Homo sapiens: one gene and its partner. The protein of the gene in region 2 purifies or fractionates together with the protein of the main gene of each other region. This does not show direct contact. Each region holds a gene or a part of one and is shown on either strand. Other genes may lie near its edges.

The links. Proteins that work in one complex are often made in the same cells at the same time.
Region 1: the proteins of OTUB2 (region 2) and NMRAL1 purify together in Homo sapiens (affinity purification with western blotting; 2 studies listed by BioGRID, with this or other methods). This does not show direct contact.

Annotation. Positions count from the first base shown.
Region 1 is NC_000016.10:4,461,194-4,464,682, forward strand, and holds the end of NMRAL1 (nmrA-like family domain-containing protein 1), read right to left. Parts: intron 2,658-3,489; coding exon 2,467-2,657; coding exon of another isoform or gene 2,449-2,466; intron 2,320-2,448; coding exon of another isoform or gene 2,284-2,319; exon of another isoform or gene 2,227-2,283; intron 767-2,226; coding exon 587-766; 3' UTR 501-586; downstream 1-500. UniProt on the Homo sapiens protein: Redox sensor protein. Undergoes restructuring and subcellular redistribution in response to changes in intracellular NADPH/NADP(+) levels.
Region 2 is NC_000014.9:94,043,340-94,049,430, reverse strand, and holds the end of OTUB2 (ubiquitin thioesterase OTUB2), read right to left. Parts: intron 5,461-6,091; coding exon 5,376-5,460; intron 4,846-5,375; coding exon 4,651-4,845; intron 3,716-4,650; coding exon 3,509-3,715; 3' UTR 501-3,508; downstream 1-500. UniProt on the Homo sapiens protein: Hydrolase that can remove conjugated ubiquitin from proteins in vitro and may therefore play an important regulatory role at the level of protein turnover by preventing degradation.

The DNA.
Region 1 (3,489 bases), on a different chromosome or scaffold from region 2:
AGCCTGTCTCCAGTTCACATGTGCAGATGGCCTCACTAGCTCTGGAGATGAAAGGGGTGTGTCAGAAGCTCGGCTCCTGGGGCTCCTCTGTGTCCTGTGCTATGTCCCCGTCTGTGAATGAATTTCAAATGTGGGAACAGAGGCTGCTGGTCAGAGCTGTTCTGCTAGCTGAGGTCAGAACAGGCCACTTCACACCTGTCTGACTAAACACGTTTAGGTCACTCGTCCCAGTCACCAAGTGATCCCTTCAGCCTTGGACCCTCCCTTACTGCTGTGTTGGTACAGCCCTGGAGCCACCCCTTACTGCTGTGTTGGTACAACCCCGGGTCCCCTCACTTACTGCTGTGTTGGTACAGCCCTGGACCCCCCCCCCCCGCTCCAACTTACTGCTGTGTTGGTACAGCCCCGGACCCTCCCCAACCACTTACTGTTGTGTTGGTACACAACTACCACCCCAACCCAAGTCCTGGAAGCAGAGTCCTCTTCTCCTGGAAGCCATCTGGGAGAACAATGGCTTTATTCAGATGTTGGTGCCTCTGCCCCTCTGGTGCCCCCGATCCCCACAAGGGGCCGCGAGGCGGGCAGGTCACAGCAGGTTGAAGTCCCCTTTGTGCTGTTCCAGCCACTGGTCCAGCGTCAGGGCCTTGGGGTTGAGTCTCAGGGTCAGCTCGATGTCACGGTCGGGTCTCAGGGCATAGAAACGGAACATGTTGGCCAGGTCCCGGGCACCGGGAAAGCCAAGCTTTTCGTAGTCCTCAGGAGTCATCTGGAAGCAGAGGAGCCTGTCGTGGCCGGCGTCCTCCAGTGCCCCGGGAGGTGGCGGGGCAGGGAGGCCGGATGGGCTGGGGTCTCCCGACCTGCTACACCCAGAGCCACTATTGTCTCGGTCCCTGACCCAGGTCCTCCGTACAAGGTCATTTGAAAACTTCTAAGAGCCGAAAGTTCAGAAACTGCTGCTCTCCTGAGCTGCCTGACATTGTAGATCAGTTTAAAGATTGTTCTTGGCCAGATGCTGTGGCTCATGCCCGTAATCCCTGCACTTTGGGAGGCTGAGGCAGGCAAATCTCTTGAGGCCAGGAGTTCGAGACCAGCGTGGCCAACACGATAAAACCCCGTCTCTTTCAAAAATACAAAAATTAGCCAGCCTGGTGGTAGGTGCGTGTAATCCCAGCTACTTAGGAGGCTGAGACAGGAGAATCGCTTGAAACCAGGAGGTGGAGGTTGCAGTGAGCTGAGATCACCCCACTGTACTCCAGCCTGGGCAACAAGAGTGAGACCCTGTCTCAAAAATGAATAAATAAAAAGACTATTATTTTCAGATCATGAGACGAAAATATCTCAGTCCCTTCCAAATCAGAGACCTGCCTGCATCACTTTCTTTCTCAAAAACCAAAGCTTGACCAGACACAGTGGCTCACACCTGTCATCCCAGCACTTTGGGAGGTGGAGGTGGGAGGATCGCTTGAGCCCAGGAGTTAGGCCCACCACGCCGGGCTAATTTTTTGTATTTTTAGTAGAGACGGGGTTTCACCGTGTTAGTCAGGATGGTCTCGATTTCCTGACCTTGTAATTGCCCGCCTCAGCCTCCCAAAGTGCTAGGATTACAGGTGTGAGCTACCGCGCCTGACCCAACTTTCGTCTTTTAAGGACTCCAGTGTTTCCCAGATTCTTTTTTTTTTTTGGAGTTGGAGTCTCGCTCTGTCGCCCAGTCTGGAGTGCAGTGGCATCTCGGCTCGCTGCAAACTCTGCCTCCTGAGTTCAAGCGATTCTCTTGCCTCAGCCTCCCAAGTAGCTGGGATTACAGGCGCCTGCCACCACACCCGGCTAATTTGTTTATTTTTAGTAGAGATGGGGTTTCACCCTGTTGGCCAGGCTGGTCTCAAACTCCTGACCTCAGGTGATCCACCTGCCTCGGCCTCCCAAAGTGCTGGGATTACAGGCGTGAGCTACTGCACCCAGCCTCCCAGATTCTTTAATGAGTATGTCTTACTTTCCTAATGGTAATGACAAACATTAGAAACCAGGTACCCAAGAGTCTGTCCAGTAGGCCTCCTGCCCACCCAGCCAGGCCAATGGGGGCAGGGGTCGGCCCTATCTTTCTAGCCTCTTTCCCTTTAAATCCCCTCCCACAGGGGAGGGGTCGGGTCTATCTTTCCAGACTCTTTTCTCTTCAAATTCCCTCCCACAGAGGAGCCCGGCAGGGCCTGCATTTTCACCCCTCCTTGCCTTGGCTCCTATGGCCCTCTCCTCCTGGAAGCTTTTCTCTCTATTTGGTCAAAACATCTAAGCCAGAAATTTCACTCTGTGGCCAGTTAGCTCCTGGAACAGCAGAAAATAAACGTTGACGATGAACGAATGAATTTAGATGTACTGCCCAGAGGTGTGGGCAGCCCTGGACACACCCTCCCTACGGGAGCTAGAAAGCCCTGACAAGGATGCCTGAGTCACCTGGGGCGGGAGGCCCACCTTGGCATCGTGCACGACCTTGCGGGTGTGCTTGGTGAGCAGGGCAGCGTACTCCTCGGCCGTGTGCCTGCAAGTGCTCAGCCCGATGTTCTGGCCGACGTATTTTTCTGGCATCTTCAAAAGGCTGAGCACCACAGGACCCAGGTCAGACACGGACATGCCATCCATGGGAACGTCACCTGTGGGCAAGCCTGTGGGGCAGAGACGTGAGCTGGTATATGTCCCGAGGGCAGACAGGGGCAGGGACAGAGCCCCTCTCCAAAGGGTCCAAGCTGGTTCTTCCCAGCAGTCAGCTGCACACTCCAGCACTCGGGCATAGCTAAGACAAGTCTTGCTATTTGTGGTAGCACAGAGGCAGCAGTGGAATTGAGTCAGGAAACGGGATGGAATCCGGGTACTGCCACCTAGGGCAGGCTGTTGAGGCTCTCTGAGCCTGGGTTGCTGCATTCCTAGAATGGGGCTAAGAACCTGGGCCTGCCCAGCTCTCTCAGCGCTAGGATGACAGAGAAGGGACAAAGGAAAAGGACTCTGAAAGCTGCTACAGAGAGTGTGGCTGGAGCCCAGGGTCTCCGCTAATCTGGAGGCACCAGCCTGAAGTACTCTGTCATATCCTAGATTCCTGGAAGCTGGAACGTCCACCTCTGAGTAGATACTCCAAATACCAACTCACTTACCAGGAATCCTGATTAACCAGACACCAACGGCTGGCCTAGAGCAGCACGTCCATGATAAATGCTTCATAAATCCTGAATGAATGAATGACTCGCAAACTTCCAGGCTGAGGTTTTGTAGATGGGGAGGCTGGCAACTGTCTGGGTGTGGCCTGTGGAATGCTTGGGTCCTATCCTCCTTACCTAGAGACAGGGGCCAGTGCAGCTTCCTGTTCAGATCACCTGGGAGCTCGAGGGCACAGAGCGCACAGACCGGAGCAGGAGATATCCCTGACTGCAGGTTTTTTTTTTTTTTTTTTTTTGAGATGGAGTCTCGCTCTGTCGCCCAGGCTGGAGTGCAGTGGCGCAATCT
Region 2 (6,091 bases):
CCCAGTGTCACCAGTGACCGGAATAGGAGGGGAAATTGCCCGTCTGTGAGGTCAGCTCCTGACTGACAGCTATCAGAGAATGGCAGGGAGACTCTCCATTTTCCAAATGATGCAGTGGTGGTCAGTGGGGTTAGTAAGCGGGCTTAATATCCCCTAATGGCACCTGAGCCGTGGGAGTGAAGCCACTTGCCATAAGCCAAACATAGATCCCCTGATGACTGTCCGTGTCCTGCCCTAGCCATCTAACAGCAAATTCTTTTCCTTGGTGGAGGAGCTAATACGTAGACAGGCTTTAAAAGGCAGGAGCAGCCTTCCAAGCAGTGCTACTCTCGCCTGGTAAGGTGAAGTTGGTGGGCAGAGCTTCCGGAGTGTCCTGGATCTGCCATTAAACAAGGAATATCCCTCCCCAGCTAATCTACTTAATACATAAGCACCACGGAAAAGCAGAGTTCTTGGCTGCATGCCAGGTACCCAGTATTAAGAAGCCAGGACAAAAGTAGTTATGGAAACCATTTTAATGCTAGGAGAATGTTTTTACTTACTGCCTAGGGAAGCTGTAGGGCTTGGCCCACATCCAGCAGGGCCTGGGGCCCCTGGAAGCCACTCACTGAGTTACAGCCCCCTCCCCACTCCTGTATCTGCTCAGGGTGGTGATGTGTTTGCTCCTAGACTCTCTCTCATGGTTCCCCTGACACTCCTGCTTGGGAAGCCACCGAGTCACTGCCAAGGTGACATGCTTCCCCATCTGCAGTGCCCTATGCTTCCTGTCAGGAAGGACAGGTTGGGGAATATCCCTTTGCAGAGCCCATACGATGAGTGTGTCAGGTATAATAGCTATTTTCACACAAGGAATCTCATTCTGTTTTAACCAATAATCCAGTGACACATAGGTATTGTTGCCATTTCACAAACTTGGGAATTGGGGCTCAGGGAGGTGAAGTGACTTGGCCAAGATCATACAGCTAGTAAGTGAATGCTGAAGTTAGAACCCTGGCATTCTGGCTCCAGAGCTCTCATTTGTGCTTAAAATAGGAACCCAGTCAAAAGCAGGGACTGTGCTCTTTCTGTTGCTAATTGTTCCCATTGATTTAAAAGTTTCCTTTGGAGAGAAAGTATCATAATAAACATGCAGTTGTAAAAACAAGCTCTCAAAGCAACTCTCCTTCCAGCTTTTGGTCTGGAGAGAGATGGCTCTGTGGGGTGAGGGTAGAGAATTATCCAGGAAGTGGGACTGGCCAGGGTGACTGGCTGCTGTGGACAAGCAAGGTAACATCCACAGATGACTAGAAATTTTAACAAGGTGCCAAAGCCTGCCACACCTTTTCATCCACTATGTTTTCCCTTCGAGACAAAGATCTGAGAGAGAACGTGGGGGAAACAAGGGCAATGGTTCGGATTTGGCCAGTGGTTTTTTGCAAAAAGGGGAAAAGCAGAGGGTAAGACCATGAAAGTAACTTGGCCTTCCTCTGCCAGAGCTTGAGTGTCCTGATTCTGAAGTGATAGAATAGATTCTTTTCTGGGAAGAGGGCCCCTGTGAGTTTCCGGGGGGCTCTGTGACCTGGAAGCACAGCACAGGCAAGTCTCCTAGAGGGAATTTCTCCAGCCAGTCTGCCAAACAGCTCTGCTTCTGAGGCTACCACACAAGCCACAAATACAGAGACATAGCAGCCCAGTGAGGCTTCTGCTGTGCTTGAGAGCCTAGCTGGAAGGCCCAGAGCCCACCTTACAGCCCCTTAGAACAGCCAAGGCGTCATCCAGGCTGTGTGTGTGTCCGTTCACACCTTTCAGTTGGGAAACAGGGATCCCCTGGAGACTTGTCTGGCAAAGATGATGATATTCACAAATCATGTCATGTGTTCCCCCCACGCTTCCAGTGTACTTCTCATAGACCATGGTGGGACACTGAACAAATTCAGAGGTGACAGTCAAATTTACATTCCTGTGAAAAAGTGACATAATGACTTAGCCAGAGCCTTTGGATCCAAACTCCAGCTGAGGGCAGTATGGAAACCAGGGTCCCTGCTTGGAACTAAAATCCCCTGATATCTGAGAGTGCTATTGGCTTTTCACGAAGGCAGAAGAGTGACACAAATCTGACATTTGTGTCAAGAGGACTCTGAGGAGTCTGCTACCCAGTCCTTGTGCAGTCAGGTTGTCAGCAGACTCATGCAGCAGCACCAATAGATTCCAGTAAATCCCTGCAGAATGAAACCTGTGAGAAGGTGGCCTTCAATTAAGGAAGGACCCCAAAGGGCAATTCCACACCCTGCATTTTCCATTTCCTCTTATAGAGGAAGAGAGGTTGCTAGCAGCACCTCTGCCCAGCCAGGGTGTGGGTCCCCACTGGTGCCATCTTGCCGGCCAGCCCACAGATGGAATCTTGAAGGTCCTGAGGCAGCAAGGTGAGGGGCTTATTTAAGGGGTATGGCCAGGTGGCTGAAGGAGGAAGCTGCTGGCCGGAATTCCCAGGCGGTTTCCACAGTGGAAATCTCCCCACTGCCAACTTCCCATGGCTTGTCTGTTCTTTCCCACCTACCCTCTGACCAGTCCATAAAGAGAGCAGAAGCGGGAAAGGGAGGAAGAAGCCAGGGGCAGCCTGCAAAGCGTCTGCTCTGCTCAGCTGGGTCCATGGCTGTGCGTGCCAACACTTCTATCCTTGAAGTATCCAGACTCCACTTCTAGGATTTGCTGGGGATGATGGGACAGCTGCGGCTTCCTGGTCCCAGACAGAAATACACAGATTCTGGTCCAGACCCTAGTCTTGTAAGCCTCTGTCCAGGTGGGGCTGAAAGCAGAACCCTGAAGGGCTCGTCCACCAAGAGTCAGGCAGTTCTAGCCCTGAGAGAGGTAGAGGGGCCCCAACAATTTGAGCTCCTACTAAAGGCTAAAGGCCCCTTTCTGGACTTTGGCAAAAAAAGGAAGTCTTTTTTTTTTTCTCCTTAAGTTAGGGGTAGGAAAATACATCCATCATGAATGTTTGAAACCACACCGTAGCCCTCACATTCAAGTTGACCTCAATAGGCCATCTGTCAGAGCCCAGTCCAACAAGTGACTGGACTGGACTCTTTTGTAGGCCTGGTAAGTCACTTGGGTTAAGACAGCTAACCTTGAGCTTTTCCTCCCCCGCAGAGAGGCACTGCCCCTGGTAAAGAGACACCAGAGGCCCCATTTTTCTACAATGGAATGTCAGCATAGGCAGGGACCTCCTCCAGTTGAAGAAACAAGTCCAGAGAGGGCAGGTGACCCACCCAGGGCCTCACTGCGAACTGGGGTGCGGAGTCGGGGGCCCAGTTAGAAAGCATTTGTCCCTCCATTAAAATAAATACTAAAAATCCTACCAAGTTACCATAGTCCATAGTGGATAGGCCTCGTTCCCAGGGGCTTTGCCCAAAAGGCTGCACATTTTCTTGCTACAGTCTAAATTGCTTAAAAAATTGAAGAGCCGGAATGTTCCATTCAGAATGCAGTCCCATTAGGTGACAGGTTCCACTGCATGGCCTAAAATTAATCAATGTTTATCGGCTGCATAAAGGATGTTGTAGTGGGATGTTTTATAGAGCAGGTAAACGGAAGGGGTGGCGGCCTCAGGGAACACGTGGTGGTTCAGGGCGGTATCCATCTCGTCCACGTACTCCACTTGCAGGGCAATGCTCAGGGCCTGCGACAACGCCGTGATCTGGATGTGGTCACACTCCGTGGCCATGGGCTCTACTTCCTGCAGGGGCCAAAATGAAAACAAGCCAGCTTAGGAGGGAGGCCTGGCAGAGGACAAGTGAGTTCAGCTCTGGCTCTCAGGGTCATGGTCACAGCCTCTGTGCTGGGACGTCATCTTCACAACATCCCATGAGTTGGGTATGGACGTTCTCATGCCACACGGGAAACAGCCTCATTGAGAGGCAGCATAGCTAGAAATCGCTACAATTGCAAGAATCGAACCTGAATCTTTTCCATTCTAGACCTTGTAGTTACACCTGACAGCAGGCTACTAATTTAGAGGGATCTGGAAACGGGGGGCAGACATTTTTCAGGTTGGGCATCAAAGAATCTTAGAGATAAAAGGCACCCTGTCATCCAGGGGTGCCTTTCAAGCTTAAGTGTTTACAGAGGCTAGGCTGGTGAGTGAGGGTGCGAGTCCGGGTGCTGCAGAGACGATGGAAGAAGCAGAGGCGGTGGCAAGCAGGCGTATGTCCTACATAGAGAGGGCAGCTGCTGCTTAGTGCCTGCTGAGACTGCCCTGCAAGAGCAAGGACCTGGGGGCTGTACTTCTTACTTTCCAGCAGAAATCCAAATATTCATATGAAAAGTGCCTAATTTTTAAATATCGGCAACTCTTTCTGGTAAATACCATGCATCATAAACACGTCAAGCAAATGTGACTCTTGGACTATGACTGTGGTTTTGTAAACAGGCCAGTCCAAATCCCTTATTTTTCAGATGGGAAATCTCCAGAGAGGGGAAGTGACTTGCCTCAGGCCACACAGCTCAGGCAGCTCAGGTGGGACCTGTCTGCAGCTTGCTGACCTAGCTCTGTTTGAATTGCAAGGGCAGTCGTGACACCCGAGTCCCTTGGCTACGGATGGGTGCTGAAGTCTGCAGGACAGGGCCACAGGAGCAGAGCCCAGGGCTGGGGCTGAGACCCCAAGCACCTACGTGAGTGCAGAAGTCTTTGATGTCCATCTCCTCATCAATGAAGTGCCGGAAGAAGTCTGCTCGGTTCCTGATGAAGGCCGACGTGAGCAGGCGCAGGAACTGCACGATGTGGTCCGAGGCACTCTGGTCGTTGAACACCTTCAGCAGGCTGGACACTGAGCCATCCTTCTCTACCAGTTCCACCACACTGTAAAACTGCGCCCGCCCGGCCCTCAGCTAGGGAGGCCAAGCAAGCCCCAGCCCTCCCTCTGCATTCTCCCTCCGCTCCCTCCCTTCGCGTGAAGCCCTCACGTGCATTTTCATTTGTAGATTCTCAGGTTGAGTTAGAAAATCAGTCTGAGATTCTGCCTAAGCTAAGTAACCCAGGGTTAGCAAGACTTTGCAGTTTGTACACTAGTCCAGAGGCATGTTTGGGAGCGGCAGTTGGGTCTCCCCACCATGACTACCTGGGTTTGGATTCTCACGTGCACACTCAGAGTGGCAAGCGTCTGAGAGTCCTCGATCCCGCCCCTTCACTAATTGGATAGGGAGGCATGAGGTGGAGATGGAATAGGGTGAGGGAATAGGGTGAGGGCTCCCTGTGCCCACACACCCCCACAAGCAGGAAGGAACCCTCTGTCCTTCCCCAGCCAGGAGGAGCAGAGCTGTGGGCTGTGTAGGGGCTCCAGCCAGTGCCCACTCCTGTCTGCTCTGCCAGTGTGGAAGGAGGGACCAGGTGAACTCACAGCATTGAAGAAGTTTCTGAACTTGTGCTCCTCAAAGCCAGCAGCCAGAAGGTCATTTGGGGTCTGCAGTACGCGTTCTTTGAACCTACAGAGGGGGAAGACTGAGTGTTTACAGGGAAACACAGCGAGAGTGCTGTGATTGGCAACTGTGCGTCCCCCTCTCAACCCACTGCGCCCACCAACCTCATCTCTAGTCCAGCCGCAGAACCTCCCGCCCCTGCCCCCAACACACAGCCACATGCACCGTGCACATCTCCACCCTGGCCCTGCCGGGCCCTGGTGGCTGAGCTGCATTGTGTGTGTGTGCATGGTGGAAAGACGATACGACAAGGGCGTGTGTGATTTTGCATCTTTTCCAACTCCCTACTCAGTGACCTCATGAGGGCAGCTTGACTCAGTCATGATAATATTGAATACTGACACCACAGCAATCGGCTGACAACACACATCAGGCCTCCCGCACGCCCACAGCCGGCTGTTAAGCATCTGCCAGCACCAAGTTACCCTTGGGGACCCACTCCACAGGCCCTTGCTCTGCGCATGCTGGGTTGTTACTCTCTGCACCTACTGCAGGCCCCCTCATGGCGCAGCCCCTTTCTGGGACCTGTCCTGGTGCCCTCAGGGGGTATGGCAAGAAACCCAGGCCTGGGCCTGGCCCTGGCTCCAGGACACTCCCAAGTTTAGTGGCAGCAACGAGGTATGGAGGAAGGGCTGCC